Linked DNA regions of Homo sapiens: region 2 is linked to region 1. Evidence: fine-mapped expression QTL. Tissue or cell type: whole blood. Region 1 holds a variant in brackets; the other region holds the start of a gene. All regions are shown on one strand. Distances are between the middles of the regions.

Region 1 (9,255 bases):
TTAAACTTTAAATTGATTCATATAGTATATATTGAAACAATGTTTTTGAAATTCACCTATATTGTTGCAAGTAGCTACAACTGATTGTTGAAATGGTTCATAGTATTCATGTGTAATATACTATAGTTTTTAAAATCCATTTTACTCTTGGTATTTGGGCCGTTGTCAGTGATTTCTATTATGAATGGTGCTGCTATAAACATTCTTGTACATGTCTCCTGGTATACACTGACAAGAGCTGCTCTTGGAGTGGAATTTCTGGGTCAGAGTGTAGAAACATGTTTAAATTACCAAGATAATTCTAAACCGTTTTCCAAAGTGGATGTTCCAATTTATGCTCCCATGATCACTGACCATCTCATTAATTGTGTGACATCTTTGCCAGCACTTAATATTGTTCAACTTCATAATCTTTATCAGTCTGGTAGATGTGAAATGGTATTTTCTTATAGTTTTGTTTACTGGATTGTCAAAGAGGCTTAGAATATTTTCACATGTTCACTGACCACTTGTCATTCCCCTTCTTGAAGTGGGGCTTCTGCGCTAACTCTTGGGTGAAGCATGTGGGCACAGGCCCTCAAGGACAGATGGCCCAGCCCAGAGTTTTAGTTTCTCAGGTCTTCCCATGACTGAGTAGAGGCCCTCCTAGCTACTTGCATCCCACCTTACTCAGTGACCCTCCGTCAAAACAACTGTCAGGGCCAGGCACGGTGGCTCACGCCTGTAATCCCAGCACTTTGGGAGGCCGAGGTGGGAGGATCACCTGAGGACAGGTATCAGGGGAACCCGCCCCCAATAATTCAATGTTATTTCATGTAGGTTCTTTTCTATTTCCCTAAGTGTCAGACAGTCCGAGAAATAAAGAGTACAGGAGAGAGAAATTTTAAAGCTGGGTATCCGGGGGAGACATCACATGTCGGCAGGTTCCGTGATACCCCCCAAGCCGCAAAACCAGCAAGTTTTTATTAGTGATTTTCAAAGGGGAGGGAGTGTACGAATACGGTGTGGGTCACAGAGATCACATGCTTTACAAGGAAATAAAATATTACAAGGCAAATGGAAGCAGGGCGAGATCATAGGACCCAGGCGAAATTAAAATTGCTAATGAAGTTTCAGTCACGCATTGTCATTGATAACATCTTATCAGGAGATAGGGTTTGAGAGCAGACAAGCCGTCTGACTAAAAATTTACTAGGTGGGAATTTCCTCATCCTAATAGGCCTCGGAGTGCTACAGGAGACTGGGGCTTATTTCATCCCTTATCTGCAACTGTAAAAGACATTCCATTTTAGAAAGACAGGCCATTTTAGAGACCAACCCCTGGAAAGGCATTCTCTTTCTCAGGTCTGTTCCTTACTGAGAAAAGGAATTCAGTGATATTTCTATTTGCTTTTGAAAGAAGAGAAATATGGCTCTGTTCTGCCTGGCTCTCAGGCAGCCAGACCTAATGGTTATCTCCCTTGTTCCCTGAACATTGCTGTTATCCTGTTCTTTTTTCAGGGTGCCCAGATTTCATATTGTTTAAACACACATGCTTACGAACAATTTGTGCAGTTAACACAATCGTCGCAGGATCCTGAGGCGACATACATCCTCAGTTTACAAAGACAATGGGATTAAGAGATTAAAGTAAACACAGGCATAGGAAATCACAAGAGTATTGACTGGGGAAGTGATAAATGTCCATGAAATCTTCACAATTTATATTCTGCCATGGCTTCAGCCGGTCCCTCCGTTTGGGGTGCCTGACTTCCTGCAACAGACAGGAGTTCCAGACCAGCCTGGCCAAGATGGTGAAACCCCATCTCTACTAAAAAATACAAAAAAAATTAGGGTGTAGTGGTGCCTGCCTGTAATCCCAGCTACTTGGGAGGCTGAGGCAGGAGAATCTCTTGAACCTGGGAGGTGGAGGTTGCAGTGAGCCAAGGTCACGCCATTGTACTCCAGCCTGGGCGACAAGAGCGAAAATCCGTCTCTAAATAAATAAATAAATATGTCAGGTGGTCTCCATCTCATAAAACCAGCTCCAGCAAACAGGGGTTGAAGCTCAGGATCCAGGCTGCTCTGTGGCCCACAACCCAGTCGAGCCAACAGGCCAAGACCTTCCTGACTGGTGGCCAGCGCCATGCCTGCAGGCCGCTCACACCAGAGATGCCACTTAGAACTCTCCACTGGGGAGTTCGATCGGTAGCGGGAGCGGAGAGCGGACCCCGGAGAGCGGACCCCAGAGAACCCTGAGCAGCCCCGCCGCTGCCGGCCTAGTTACCGTCATACCACGGGAGGAGCCGCAGCTGCCGCAGCCGGCCCCAGTCTCCATCACCGCAACCAATGAGCAGCAAGGCCGAGACCCAGCAGCCACCCGCCGCCCCCGCCTTTCCCCCCACCGCCCCCCTCCCGTCCCCCCGCCGCCCCCGCCCTCAGCGCCGCCGACACCAAGCCCGGCACTACGGGCAGCTGCGCAGGGAGCGGTGGTCCGGGCGGCCTCACATCGGCGGCGCCTGCCAGCGTGGACAAGAAGGTCATCGCAGTGAAGGTTTTGGGAACAGTAAAATGGTTCAATGTAAGGAACGGATATGGTTTCATCAACAGGAATGACACCAAGGAAGATGTATTTGTACACCAGACTGCCATAAAGAATAACCCCAGGAAGTACCTTCGCAGTGTAGGAGATGAAGAGACTGTGGAGTTTGATGTTGTTGAAGGAGAAGAGGGTGCGGAGGCAGCAAATGTTACAGATCCTGGTGGTGTTCGAGTTCAAGGCGGTAAATATGCAGCAGATCGTAACCATTATAGACGCTATCCACGTCATAGGGGTCCTCCACGCAATTACCAGCAAAATTACCAGAACAGTGAGAGTGGGGAAAAGACCGAGGGATCGGAGAATGCTCCCGAAGGCCAGGCCCAACAATGCCGGCCCTACCGCAGGCAAAGGTTCCCACCTTACTACATGCGGAGACCCTATGGGTGTCGACCACAGTATTCCAGCCCTCCTGTGCAGGGAGAAGTGATGGAGGGTGCTGACAACCAGGGTGCAGGAGAACAAGGTAGACCAGTGAGGCAGAATATGTATCGGGGATATAGACCACGATTCCGCAGGGGCCCTCCTTGCCAAAGACAGCCTAGAGAGTACGGCAATGAAGAAGATAAAATCAAGGAGATGAGACCCAGGGTCAGCAGCCACCTCAACGTCGGTACCGCAGCAACTTCAATTACCAACGCAGATGCCCAGAAAACCCTAAATCACAAGATGGCAAAGAGACAAAATCAGCCAATCCACCAGCTGAGAATTCGTCTGCTCCCGAGGCTGAGCAGGGCGGGGCTGAGTAAATGCCGGCTTACCATCTCTACCATCATCCGGTTTAGTCATCCAACAAGAAGAAATATGAAATTCCAGCAATAAGAAATGAACAAAAGATTGGAGCTGAAGACCTTAAGTGCTTGCTTTTTGCCCGTTGACCAGATAAATAGAACTATCTGCATTATCTATGCAGCATGGGGTTTTTATTATTTTTACCTAAATATGTCTCTTTTTGGTAATAACAAACGTGTTTTTTTTAAAAAGCCTTGTTTTTCTCAATACGCCTTTAAAGGTTTTTAAATTGTTTCATATCTGGTCAAGATGAGATTTTTAAGCACTTTATTTTTAATTTGTAATAAAAGTTTACAACTTGATTTTTTCAAAAAAGTCAACAAACTGCAAGCACCTGTTAATAAAGGTCTTAAATAATAATAATAAAAAGAACTCTCCACTGGGCACCCTCAAAATTGCACAAGTTCCTTCTGTTATTAGTTCATGCTGAGTTGTGATGCCAGCACTTCAAGCCTTGTTAATCATTGGATCAACAAGTACCGAGCTAGGTGCTAGAGAGAGATGGAAAAAGGCACCTGGGCCCAGCCCTAAGCCTGGATCGCGGACAGTGACGTTGGTCCACACCTCACCTGCCCTCTCTGCCCTGCTACATGCCCCAGGCTTGCCCTGAACCGTGAGCTCTAGAAATTCCAGGTCCGGGTCGCAGCCACAGGGCAGTCAGGCGTGTCACGTGACCGCGCCGGGTAGAGGGAGACAGAGTCGCACGGCTGAGACGCCAGGCAGTCGCCTAGCAACAGCGGGACGCGGAGCGATGGAGACCAGCAGCAGGGAGCTCCAAGCCGCGGAGTATTTGGAAAAGCATCAGATCAAGGAGGTGGTTAGCTACCTCACCAGCGCCCTCCTTTTCTTTCGGCCGGGTAAGGGCCCCCATGCCCCGGTACAGCCATACCTCCATGTGGGGTTCGCTTCCCACACGAAACCCCCCTCTTACACATTCGCTTTCCACTGCCTCCCAGCCACGTGAGCCCTTCTGCTGTTGATTAACTCTGCGGCCTTCAATAAAAGTCCCTCAGGCTGCAGTACAATGGCGTGATCTCATTTCACTACAACCTCCACCTCCTGGTGGCGATTCTCAGGGGCGATTCTCCTGCCTCAGCCTCCTGAGTGGCTGAGATTACAGGCGCCCGCCACCATGCATGGCTAATTTTTGTATTTTTAGTAGCGACAGGGTTTCGTCATGTTGGTCAGGCTGGTCTCGAACTCCTGACCTCAGGTGATCTGCACGCCTCGGCGCCTCAAAGTGCTGGGATTGTAGGCGTGAGCCACCGCGCACGGCCAAAGTTTTTAATCTGGCAACTAAACAATTGATAGGGTAGGATAGAAGATGTTCTAGAGGGGATCGCTTTTCCTGACTTTTTTTACACATCTGAACCCCCTACAAAATTTGAATCGTTTTGTAATTTGGGAGTGGTGTGTCATTTAAAAGTTATATTTAGGTGAAAATGGTTTTATGTCCTCCCCAGGGTGCAGAATTGTAATTTGCCGACCTCCATATGGAGCGTCCGAAATGCCAAAATTGTCCATTTGCTTCTGTGTAAGGAAGTGGAAATACCAAACATTCCAATTTTGCCAAAAAACACCCAACCAATATCATGTATAGGAGACAGAGTTCTTGCTAGTTGTTTTAAAGTATTAAAACAAATATTAGAAAGAAAAAAAAAGGCCGGGCACGAGATGGCGCCACTGCAGCCTGGGCGACAAAGCGAGATCCTATCTCAAAAATAAAAATAAAAATAAAAAATAGGCCAGGAGCAGTGGCTCAGGCCTGTAATCCCAGTACTTTGGGAGGCCGAAGCGGGTGGATCACTTGAGTTCAGGAGTTTGAGACCAGCCTGGCCAACATGGTGAAACCTCGTGTCTGCTACAAATACAAAAAATTAGCCGGGTGTGGTAGCGCATGCCTGTAATCCCAGCTATTCGTGAAGCTCCTTGGGGGCGGTGACTCACGCCTATAATACCAACGCTCTGGGAGGCTGTGGTGGGCAGATCACTTGACTTCAGGAGTTCATAGACCAGCCTGGGCAACATGGCAAAACCCCATCTCTATTAAAAATAAAAAAACTTAGCTGCACGTGGTGGTGCGTGCCTATAATCCCAGCTACTCAAGAGGCTGATGTGGGAGGATCACGTGAACCTGGGAGGCGGAGGTTGCATTGAGCGGAGATTGCTACTCAAGCCAGGTGACAGAGTAAAACACCTTCTCAAAAAAAAAACTAAAA[ATAAAG/G]ACAAATGTTAATTTTCTTCATCATAACAAGGGATATATTATGTTACATTCGTTATATAAAATATTTGTCAACATTTATTTTTAAATTTCATTTTTATTGAAGTGGATGTATGGGGTTTAAAAATTGAAAAGTACTCCAAAGCTTATAATAACAGCATTCCTGTTGCTATCCCCAGCTTCTGCACAGAATAATTTCAACTCTTTTAGCAATATTCTTTGCTATTTATCTTGAGATTTCTAAATAACAGGCCTATATTGCTGCTGCTTAATGTTTTTCCCTCTAGGTTAGATACTAGCTTTATGCTGTGGAAGATGAAAATGCGCCTTTCTTAAACACACACCTCATACACCTGTTCCCACTCACACCCATCTTCCAGATAAATTTAGATCACAATTTTGATATCCTCAGTATTCAGAATTTTTAATATTGTTAGGCAAGTATCTATAATCCTTATAGTATGCTGATTATATTTCCCTTGTTGTTTTCCCTGGTTAATAATATATTTACATTTTTGGCTTAAATTTGTGTGATCATCACTAATTCATCCATACCCTCTTTTGCCACAGTACAGCTGTCCTCTCATTACATTTGCATTCATTGGGTAATTACCCCCACCACCACCACCCAAACCCCGTACCCCCAGCTGTGTGTCTTCCTGCTCCAGTCTGGACTGATAGCTACACAGTGGTTATTCACGGCTTCCCCTCACTCTGATCCTAAGACGACTCCTCGCCTTTCTAGTGTTCAGAGCCTGTTTTATGGCACAGCCAGTAATCCCTCATTCTTGCTTTACCGCTTTCTTCTGGTGGAGCATATCCTTTAGTGGCTTCCTGAGAGAGCGTGCTTTGAGGGGTAAAGATTTTGGGAACACACGTATATAAAAATGTGAGTTCCTACATTCAAAACTTTTTAATAGAGTGGAGGCTGTGCACGGAGGCTCACACCTCCCAACACTTTGAGAGGCCAAGGCGGGTGGATCACTTGAGGTCAAGAGCTAGAGACCAGCCTGGCCAACATGGTGAAACCCCATCTCTACTAAAAATACAAAAATTAGCCAGGCATGGTGGCATGTGCCTCTAGTCCCAGCTACTAGGGAGACTCTGGCAGGAGAATCACTTGAACCTGGGAAGTAGAGGTTACAGTGAGCTGAGATTTCACTGTTGCACTCCAGCCTGAGCAACAGAGTGAGACTCTGTCTCATAAAATAAAATAAGAGTGGACACAATTTTAACTTGGAACATATTGCCCTCAGAATTTTTAAGGCATTGCCCCATTGTCTTCTAATTTCTCATGTTGCTCTGAAGAATTCTGATGTCATATGTCATCAGATACTTGATCTGGCTATGAGGCAAGTTTATTCTTTCCAGAAACTTTTTAGGATTGTCTTTTTATCTTATCCCTGGTGTCCTAAATATATGCCTTGGAATGGTTTTGTTGTGGTTGCTGTTAATGTTTGTGCTCTAGGTACTTTATGGTCTTATTAAATTTGGAGATATTTTTCTTTCAGGTCTAGGAAGTATTTTTCTTATTTTCCTTACCTATATCTTTCTGGAATTATTATTGGATATTGGACATCTTGGCTTGATTTTCTAATTTACTTTACATCTTGATATGTTGTATAATTTTTATCAGAAGAATGCAATTTATGAATCTGCAGATTCTCTTGAGAATTTACCAAATTGTTATTTTGATGCTCCTCACTGACTTATACTTACATTTCCTGTCTTCATTAGTCGTTCTTTATGGGTAAGATGACTGTATGAGTTATCATCCAAACCGGGGATATTTTGAGTGAAAATAGGTACTATTAATAATTATGCCAGGACAACATGGTAAACTAGGACTGTCCCAGGCCAACTGGAACCTTTGATTATCCTGAATACGGGTATCTTAAACATGATATGAACAACAAAATTTAAAAAGACAGGCTTGGGATGGTGGCTCACGCCTATAATCCCAGCACTTTGGGAGGCCAAGGTGGGTAGATCACTTGAGGTCAGGAGTTCGAGACCAGCCTGGCCAACGTGGTGAAAAACTATCTCTACTAAAAATACAAAATTATCCAGATATGGTGGCACAGTGAAATGCTGTCTCTACTAAAAATACAAAATCAGGTGTAGTGGCACATGCTTGTAATCAGTTATTCGGGAGGCTGAGACAGGAGAATCGCTTGAACGCGGAGGCAGAGGTTGCAGTGAGCTGAGATTGCACCACTGCACTTCCAGCCTGGGTGACAGAACAAGACTCTGCCTCAAGGAAAAAAAAAAAAAAAAATTGAACAGACAAAAGCACCATGGCAGCCAATGGGTCAACTGAATGAAAACTTAATTTTTCTGAGTCACAACATGAGCCCACTTACCTGATCTGAGTGAACTTCAGGATAGTCTCTGAGCATCTCAAACAGTTATAATACACACAGAGGCCTCCATTTGGCCATCTCGGTTGCAACACAGAATCACACTCAAAGCAGCACAGTCATTCCAGCAATCAAGAGTAATTTGAAAGGAATCAAAAAGACTTCAATTCATAATCCACAGTAAAACCACTCAAAAGTCCTTCCTCCTTGTTCCCAGCTGTATTCTCCACAGCAGCTGCAGATCCTATCAGGTTCCAAATTCATGACACTCAGCCCATCCAACTCTTCTGTCTCCTCCCTATCTTGCATGTTTTTCTCAGCTCTTTATTATGTCAAACAATTTAGCATCTTGAAGATTCTTTTTTTCCTCCAGCACAAAAAGCCTTGCACCCATCTGGCAAAACCAGAATTTTCCAGTAGAAGGCATTATGGGGGGAAAAGAACCTAAGCAGATAAAGACAAAATTCTCTTTGGTGGAAGGGAAGTCTGGGAATACTCATACATTAATTATATACCTATCACATAAATAGTGTAGCTGTTTTTTTAAAACTGAGACATGGGTACCACTTTTTTTTTTTTTTAAGACGGAGTTTTGCCCTGTCGCCCAGCCTGGGGTACAGTGGCACATCTTGGCTCACTGCAACCTCCGCCTCTGGGGTTCAAGTGATTCTCATGCCTCAGTCTCCAGAGTAGCTGGGATTACAGGTGCAAACCACCATGCCCAGCTAATTTTTGTATTTTTAGTAGAGACGGGGTTTTGCCATGTTGTCCAGACTGGTCTCGAACTCCTGACCTCAAGTGATCCTCTCACCTTGACCTCCCAAAGTGCTTGGATTACAGGTGTAAGTCACTGCACCTGGCTGGGTACCATCTTCAATAATGAGAATTCCGGCTAGGCGCGGTGGCTCACACCTGTAATCCCAGCACTTTGGGAGGCCAAGGCAGGCGGATCACGAGGTCAGGATATCGAGGCCATCCTGGCTAACACAGTGAAACTCCATCTCTACTAAAAATACAAAAAAAATGAGCCAAGCATGGTGGGAGGCACCTGTAGTCCCAGCTATTCAGGAGGCTGAGGCAGAAGAATGGTGTGAGCCTGGGAGGCGGAGCTTGCAGTGAGCTGAGATTGTGCCACTGCACTCCAGCCTGGGCAACAGAGTGAGAATCTGTCTTAATAATAATAATAATGATGATGAGAATTCCTTAAAATATCTTTATAAACACCAAAGCTGGGGAGAGGAAACCATAGGTACAGAAACACTGAGCCAGAATAAGAAGGTAATGAAGCTAAAGAAGGGGTGGGC
Region 2 (9,255 bases), 49 kb after region 1:
TAATACAATGTACGTTCTTAAATCCTCTTAAACAGTATATAATAGACTATTTGTCACGTTCTATATCTTTAAAATTCTATATATAATAGATTATGTTTATATTATATTGTTAAAAGTATTCCACTGATAATTATTTCAGTGAGTTTCAATACTTACCTGTTCTTCTAACTGCATTTTACTTACTGTCCTCTGTTCTATGAGTTTATCAAGTTTCTTTAAAGATTTAAGGTCATTTCCAACTTCCTTTTCTATGAATGCAGACACATAAGAAGGGAGATCACCATTATCTGTACCTTCACTGACTTGTTTACTTCCAATAAGAACTGTAACATTTATGTCACCTACAACAAAAGAATAACAATTACTCAACGCCACTAAGTACTATGGAGTTAAAGAAAATATAAAACATATAAAAGCAGTTTATCTGCCTTCAAAAGTTAATAATTTTGCCAGGCACGGTGGCTCACACCTGTGATCCCAGCACTTTGGGAGGCTGAGGCAGGTGCATCACCTGAGGCCAGGAGTTTAAGACTAGCCTGGCAAACACGGCGAAATCCCGTCTCTACTAAAAATACAAAAATTAGCCAGGCGTGGGGGCACAGGCCTGTAGTCCCAGCTATTCGGGAGGCTGAGGCACGAGAATCCCTTGAACCCAAGAGGCAGAGGTTGCAGTGAGCCAAGATCACACCACTGCACTCCAGCCTGGGCGACACAGACAGACTCTGTATCAAAAAACAAAACCAAAACAAAGCGCCACTGCACTCCAGCCTGGGCGACAGAGACTCTGTATCAAAAAACAAAACCAAAACAAAACAAAGTTAATAATTTAAAGAACAACACACACAGACAAATGCCCAGAAGAATAGCTCTAAAGCACTCTATCAAACAACTACTGCAAAATGCTTAAGAGCTGAGGGAAGTATTAAAGGAAAAATTCCTAAAGTGTGATCCAGTAACCACAGGTTTCAATAGACAAGGAATAATACCTTTTCAAAATGTGTAAGGAACCAGTAGTATGGTCTAGGGCAACACCAAAAGAAGACTCTTGTTTTAAAGTGTTTTTAAAAAGACCGGGCGCAGGGGCTCACACCTGTAATCCCAGCACTGTGGGAGGCCAAGGCAGGAGGATCACTTGAGCCCAGAAGTTCTAGACCAGCCTAGGCAACAAAGCAAGACTTCATCTAACAAAATTAGCCAGGAATGGTGGAACACACCTGTAGTCTCAGGTGGGCTGAGGTGGGAGGATTGCTTGAGCAGCCTGGGAGATGGAGGCTGCAGTGAGCCATGATCTCACTACTACATTCCAGCCTGGACAGCAGAGCAAGACCTCATCTCTTAAAAACAAACAAACAAACAAACAAAAAAGTAAAAAAGGTTTGGCTGGGCGAGGTGGCTCAGGCCTGTAATCTCAGCACTTTGGGAGGTTGAGGCAGGCAGATCACAAGGTCAGGAGTTCGAGACCAGCCTGGCCAATATGGTGAAAACCTGTCTCTACTAAAAATACAAAAATTAGCTGGGCATGGCGGTGCACGCTTATAGTCCCAGCTACTCGGGAGGCTGAGGCAGAAGAATCGCTTGAACCCGGGAGGCGGAGGTTGCAGTGAGCCGAGATCACGCCACTGCACTCCAGCCTGGGCAACAGAGTGAGACTCTGCCTCAAAAAAAAAAAAAAAAAAGGTTTTTAAGCTTCAAATGTCATCGATGTCATTGTACAAAGATATCTTTGTCAGAAACAGAAAAAAGAAAATATGAGAGAACAAATTACTAGGAAAAAATCAAAATGACAAATGCAACCACTAAATAGTATAAAGTGAGATTCTTTCCATGGCAAATAAACTACCTGTTTTGTGACATTTAATAAGTCCAATACACATTAGGCTTATTAATATTAATATCTAAATAATGATATGCCTAAGTGCAAAATGTAAATGTCAGATATTGGTCAACTATTTATGTAAAGATTAACAGAATATATACCAATGTTTTATACAGAGTATGTTCCTGTCTCCACCCCTACACCCCAACAAACAAAATTTCCTTTGTTCTACTTAACTTATATGAATTAAATTAAAAGATTTTTCACATGCTGTGAGAATCAGGAGGTGGTACTGACCTTTTCCCCCTTTCCTGTTCAGTGCAAGATCCAGAACCCAAGCTATACATTGTGCCTTCCCAGAGCAATTTTAAATTGACAATTTAGAGGGTAGGAGAGGCAATATTAACATAACACTATGCCTCAATTTTCCAACTAGAAAACAAATTGTAACATTTGCCCCAGCCTATATCTCAAGGTTATAAATGGGACTATATAATACAAATTATATATTAATTATACTATATAATTATATATAATATTAACGTATAATAATCTACTATTATGTACAGAACTCACAATGCCTTTTTTAAATCTTAAATAAAACAAGTGATTTGTGTGGTGTATCTGCAGATAAATGGAGGCAGGAAATGTTTTGTGAATGCTAAAGTTGCTGTATCTTAGGGAGGAAATTCTACCTTCATTTTTTAAAAAAAATTACACCCACTGAGCACAGTGGCTCATGCCTATAATCCCAGCACTTTGGAAGGCCGAGGACGGTGGATTGCCTGAGGTCAGGAGTTCAAGACCAGCCTAACCAAAATGGTGAAACCCTGCCTCTACTAAAAATACAAAAATTAGCCGGGTGTTTGGCGGGCACCAGTAATCCCAGCTACTGAGGAGGCCGAGGCAGGGGAATTACTTGAACTCAGAGGCGGAGCTTGCAGTAAGGCGAGATCGCGCCACTGCACTCCAGCCTGAGAGACAGAGTGAGACTAAGTCTCAAAAAAAAAAAAAATTACACCCTTGATGTGTAACCATTCAAATGTGGCATAGTACATTCTTAGTGAAATGACATTCTTCAAAATGACACACCGGTGGTTTGGGAGGTTTTTATGTGTCTCCTTTTCTATTTTTTGTAAAGAGCACTCCTAACTGCAAAGCAGTTTGAGCTGTGGAAAGAGGAACAAGGTCAAAGTCCTTGATATGATAGTCTACATCTATTATTTTATTAAAATGACAGCTCAGTAGGCATCAGACTACTTTCCAGGCATCTGAATGAGGCAAAGGTGGAAAATGGAAAGGGAAGGGTTTAACTGAGAGATACAAGGCACTCTGAAATCCTTCAAGAAAAAGGAGCTGAGATGTGGCAGTTATGACAGTCATGTGCTATGGACTGCTCAGAGCCTTCTTTCTGAGGCAGATTCTATCAGCCGCTAATGTTAAGGGCAAATCTTACTCCTAAGGGCCATGTGCTAATGTGGGCACCGTTTTTCTTACTGCTACACATTCCCAACTGTTTGCCACAGTCAAAAGAACCAAAAATCCCAATAGCAGAGCTATCACATGCTTTTCCCCTTCCTCTCCCAAAAAATGTCACTTCAAAGGTCCCTAAAGAGCCCTTGATTTGCAATAACCTGCCATCAAAGTAAAATGGCAAAAGTCCACAACCCTGACATATACTCCCGTACTAGGGAGGAAATGGTGGTACTGACCTTTTCCCCCTTTCCTGTCCAGTCCAAGATCCAGAACCCAAGTTATCCGTTGTGCTCTTGCCAGAGCAATTTTAAATTGCCAATTTACTGAAGGTGAACTAAACAACTGTCATTTGCCTCCTTTGAACCCAATTAGGGTGGTGGTCGTCTGTCCTAGATCATGGGCCCCTCCAAATTCCTGATGCTTAGTAAGTTGATGTTTCATTAAAATGACAGGCAGGCCCCAATTATTCTGAGTACTGTATGATAGGCAGACTTCCAGCGAAAACACTCTAGTCCCTGTACTAGGTATGGATCGGGAAGTGCTCTTCTCCAAAGCATCCCATATTTTACAATTTTAGAAAGACAAAAATATGTGTATCATGGTCATCAGTATTACCATATAAGCATATTGTGCAGAAAACGGTACTGCATCTAAAAGATAGGCAAAGAACCTTTCTATATTGCAGACCCTGGAAGGCTGAGTTTGGGCGGGAAGAAAAAGCTAAGGTGTTTGGAGCTGGCTTACTTTTCTCCTCGAGGTTCTTCCTTTCGTCACCACTTTCAGAGCAGCACTAGAAGAAGAACAGATGTGACAAGCACATTAAGATTAAAGTCGTGGATGGAAAGCATACGGGGCTCCCAAAGGGCACCCACTGGAGGCAAGAGAGGTTCCAGACGCTCTCCCACTTTCTGAGCGACCAGGGCCGTCCGAATCAGGTACCTCAAAGTGCCACTGTCCTGGTGCCACCGCCACCTTCCCAGGAGGTGTGTGTCACCTCCGCAGGACCTGGAGTTACCTTGCCTGCTCACTAGAGCCACCTCCCTAGAGAAATCTGTCATCTCACCAGGGCCGCCAAAGCCACTTCACGGGGACTACCGCCTCCTCTAGGAGGTCTTACAAGGGCCTCTAATCTAAGCCGCAGGAAGCACCTTCACAAGCTTACAGGGCCACCGCACCGGGACTATCTCCCCCGGGAGGTCTGTGCCACCTCAATGGGCCACCAATGTCCCCTCCCAGGGACGCCAGGGCCGTCTCACCGGGGCTGCAGGAGAGGCGCCGATCTCGCCGGCTGGTAGCATCTCGCCTCCGCGCGAGTCCTCGGCTCCATTCGCAGCCAGCGTGGCCTGTGGAGTCTGGCTAAGGCCAGCGACACACTCACTACCCAGCCTCGGAGGCCGTAGGACTGAGTGCCACAGCGACTTCCTCTCGATGTCTCACTGGTTTCTTCCTCTCAGCCCAGAGAGGCCCTGCCCGTGCAGCCGCCGGCCGTGCTCTGTTCCTCCCCCTCCTGACCGGAGGTCGGAACGGCCACTCAGGAAGCGGGCACCCTCCCCTATGGAGCTCCAGAGAAGGGATTCGCTCACTCCACCGCGGTAAAAGTCCCCTCCACTTTATTGAAGCTCTTAATGATGGAACTTTAAGATATCCCTCTCCCAACGCCTTAAATTCAATATGAATAATTTAAATTTATATTTTAGGCAATATCCAGATGTTCTGAGAGTGTGGGGGGCTTGTTGACTAGGAGCTTCGGTGCAGGGTTATTTGGTTCGAATATTTAGTTGGGGGTTTCCAATGAATGTCAGTATCTTTAGATATTTCTTTTAACGTTGGTCAGAGTCCCTAGAGATGAGCTTCTGATTTCCTGCCTAGAGGGTGTAGAGGTGGTTATAAGCGTTCTGGGAGCTGAATGAAGAGAACAGAGCATCTAACATGTGTTTCGCCCAAAACCCTGTCTTTTACCAGGGAGGAGGAAAGGGAGCTACCTAGCAGCAAGGGTTGTGTAGAGGACCTGTGGACTTGACAGCCTCTTAAACAAACTAACACGGAAGGAGTACCATAGAGACCATAACAAACAAGGGGGGGGGAAAGCAACCCTCAGAGGAAAAAGAAACCACACGGTGAGAAGAAAAATCAAATACATGTGCACAGAGATATATAATCGAGCTACAAATTACTATTGCAAGCATAAAACAAGGATGGCTGGGCGCTGTGGCTCACGCCTGTAATCCCAGCACTTTGGGAGGCCGAGGCAGGCAGATTACGAGGTCAGGAGATCGAGACCATCCTGGCTAACATGGTGAAACCCCGTCTCTACTAAAAATACAAAAAATTAGCCAGGCGTGGTGGTGGGCGCCTGTAGTCCCAGCTACTCAGGAGGCTGAGGCAGGAGAATGGCGTGAACCCGGGAGGTGGAGCGTGCAGTGAGCAGAGACCGCACCACTGCACTCTAGCCTGGACGACAGAGCAAGACTCCGTCTCATTTAAAAAAAAAAAAAAAAACAAGGATACTATTTTTTAAATTACCTATTATGGGAACATAATCGTATATATTTATAGTGTACATGTGTGTTTGTTTTTTTTTTGCTCAGGCTGGGGTGCAATGGCGTTATCTCTGCTCGCAGCAACCTCCGCCTCCCAGGTTCAAGCGATTCGCCTGCCTCAGCCTCCCAAGTAGCTGGGATTACAGGCATGCACCACCACGCCCGTCTAATTTTGTATTTTTAGTAGAGACGATGTTTCTCCATGTTAGTCAGGCTGGTCTCGAACTCCCGGCCTCGGGTGAACTGCCCGCCTTGGCGTACCAAAGTGCTGGGATTACAGGTGTGAGCCACTGCGCCCGGCCTTTTTTTCTGGGGCGGGGCGGGGGACGGGTAAAGAAATTTTAATGAGGATTCAAGGTTTGTAGGGAAGACACAGAGGACCGGCGCTCAGCCCCAGCCTCCTCACGTGTACATGGCTCCATGGAGGTTCTCCAGTCGGTTCTGCTGCTGCTGCTGTTTTCGAGCCTTATCTCGTCTGTGTTCCTCATAAGTGTAGTCATCAGTGGGCAGCTCATGGCGGCACAAGGGACAGGAATTTGTCTTGCTTAGCCAGGGCAGAATGCAACTGGAATGAAAAAGGTGTTGGGAAGCATCTCAATGGCAGTCTCCTCCTCAGATTCCAAAAGATACACGGGGCACTTGAGCTCAGCCTTGAGAGCCTCTGATGACTGTCCTGGAGAGGTTCTCAACCACAATCTTGGCAGCCGGTGGAGGCAGGTGGTGGTCCCAATCTACTACCAACCCCAAGTCTTCAAAGTCCATCCTATTCAAAAGTGACCTTACGAGCTCCAGCACCATGTTGGTTCGAGTCTCCTGCTTGAGGGTCCAACGGCTCACAGTCGTGTTCATCGATATAGGACGCCATGGCTGCCCAGCCGTCTGACATGTGATGTTTTGATACAGGTATACAATGTGTAACTATCAAATCCGAGTAACTGGGGTATTGATCATCTTGAGAATTTATCATTTCTTTGTGTTAGGAACAGTCCAATTCCACTCTTTTAGTTATTTTAAAATATGCAATAAATTATTAACTGTAGTCACTCTGTTTTATTGTTGTTGTTGTCGTCATTTGTTTTGGTTTTGGTTTTTTTGTTTGTTTTTTGAGACAAGTTCTCCCTCTGTTGCCCAGGCAGGAGTGCAGTGGTGCAGCCATAACCCACTGTAACCTCAAACTCCTGGGCTCAAGGGATCCACCCACCTCAGCCTCCTGAGTAGCTAGGACTATAGACTGGCACCACCATTCCTGGCTAACTTTTTTTTGTTGAGACAGTGACTCGCTATGTTGCCCAGGCTGGGCTCTACTCCTGAGCTCAAGCGATTCTCCTGTCTTGACCTCCCAAAGTGCTAGGATTACAGCCATGAGCCACTGCACCTGGCCCCTAACTGTATTTTTGGACCCATTAACCATCCCCAATTTATGCCTTCCTCCCTGCTACCCTTTCAGCCTTTGGTAACAATCATTCTACTCTCTATCTCCTTGAATTCAATTTGTTTAATGTTAAGCTCCCACATATGAGAGAAAAGGATACTATTTAAAAGGAGCATTGGCTGGGCACGGTGGCTCCTGCCTGTAATCTCAGCACTTTGGGAGGCTGAGGCAGAACAAATTGCCTGAGGTCAGGAGTTCAAGACCAGCCTGGCCAACATGGTGAAAGCCTGTCTCTACTAAAAGTACAAAAATTAGCCAGGCCTGGTGGTGGGAGCCTGTAATCCCAGCTACCCAGGAGGCTGAGGCAGGAGAATCTCTTGAACCCAGCAGGCAGAGGTTGCAGCGAGCCGAGATTACACCACTGCACTCCAGCTGGGCAACAAAGCAAAACTCTGTCTCAAACATAAATAATTAAATAGATAAATAAATGAATAATAAAAGGAGCACTCACTTGTAAATGGGGAGGGTAAAAATAAATAAAATAAGAAAAGCATTCAGAGATGAAAAAATATGACAGCAGAAATTAAAATTTCAAGAGTGGAAAGATAGGCCAAGTGCAGTGGCTCACGCCTGTAATCCCAACACTTTGGGAGGCCAAGGCACGTGGATCGCTTGAGGCCAGGAGTTCGAGACCAGCCTGGCCAACATGGTGAAACCTGGTCTCTACTAAAAATACAAAATATTAGCTGGCCATTGTGGCACGTGCACCTATAGTCCCTGCTGCTTAGTAGGCTGAGGAACAAGAATTGCTTGAACCCAGGAGGCTTTTAATTTCTGCTGTCATATTTTTTGTTCTCTGAATGCTCTTTTTATTTTATTTATTTATTTTTATCCTCCCCATTTTCACAAGTGAGTGCCCCTTTTATTATTTATTATTTGTTTGTTTGTTTCTTTGAGACAGAGTTTCGTTCTGTTGCCCAGGCTGGAGTGCAGTGGCACGATCTTGGCTCACTGCAACCTCCGCCTCTGGGGTTCAAGTGATTCTTCTGCCTCAGCCTCCCTAGTAGCCAGGATTACAGGTGCCCGCCATCATGCCCGCCTAATTTTTGTATTTTTAGTAGAGATGGGGTTTCATCACATTGGCCAGGCTGGTCTTGAACTCCTGACCTCAGGTGATCTGCCCACCTCAGCCTCCCAAAGTGCTGGGATTATAGGCATGAGCCACTGTGCCTGGCCTTTTCTTTGTTTTGTTTTGTTTTTTGCTTTTTTTTCCTAGAACATTTATCAACATTTATCTTCCCACACTTTGTTTGTTTGTTTTTATTTTGAGACGGGGTCTCACTCTGTCACCCAGGCCGGAGTTTATTGGCAAGATCTTAGCTCACTGCAACCTCTGCCTCCCAGGTTCAAGTGATTCTCCTGTCTCAGCCTCCCAAGTAGCTGGGACTACAGGTGTGCACCACCACACCTGGCTAATTTTTGTATTTTTAGTAGAGATGGGGTTTCACCATGTTGGCCAGTCTAGTCTCAAACTCCTGACCTCAAGTGATCTGCCCGCCTCAGCCTCCCAAATTGCTGGATTACAGTTGTGAGCCACCACGCCTGGCCAAAAACTGGAATTCTGTACTTAATTAGTGAACTATGAATCAAATGTGAGGTTAGAATAAAAATGTGGGGTTTTTTTTAACACTCTTGTAGTCAAGAATAAAAATAGACATTAAAGATCTCAAAAAATTTAGCTTTTGTTTTATTTATTTATTTATTTATTTATTTATTTATTTATTTATTTGAGACAGAGTCTCACTCTGTCACCCAGACTGGAGTGCAATGGCACGATCTTGGCTCACTGCAACCTCTGCCTCCCAGGTTCAAGCAATTCTCCCGCCTCAGCCTCCCGAGTAGTTGGGATTACAGGCGCCCACCACCATGCCAAGCTAGTTTTTGTATTTTTAGTAGAGACAGGGTTTTGCCATGCTCAGGCTGGTCTCGAACTCCTGACCTCAGGTGATTCGCCTGCCTTGGCCTCCCAAAGTGGAATCACGGGTGTGAGC

Evidence for each region.
Region 2: RINT1 starts here. The variant in region 1 is fine-mapped to the expression of RINT1 in whole blood (TOPMed, PIP 0.94).

Annotation. Positions count from the first base shown.
Region 1 is chr7:105,576,330-105,585,584 of GRCh38, reverse strand. EFCAB10 (EF-hand calcium binding domain 10) reads left to right here and starts at 4,092. Exons shown (of 5, transcript NM_001355526.2): 1 at 4,092-4,227. The coding sequence starts at 4,122. It also overlaps the pseudogene YBX1P2. RefSeq lists enhancers at 3,677-4,187, 4,188-4,700. The variant ATAAAG/G (reference allele first, on the strand shown) is at 5,590.
Region 2 is chr7:105,527,651-105,536,905 of GRCh38, reverse strand. It overlaps RINT1 (RAD50 interactor 1), which reads right to left and starts at 4,705. Exons shown (of 15, transcript NM_021930.6): 1 at 4,549-4,705; 2 at 4,037-4,082; 3 at 157-341. The coding sequence starts at 4,590. It also overlaps the pseudogene LOC100131785. RefSeq lists enhancers at 3,933-4,509, 4,355-4,534, 4,625-4,924, 4,510-5,087, 5,375-5,424.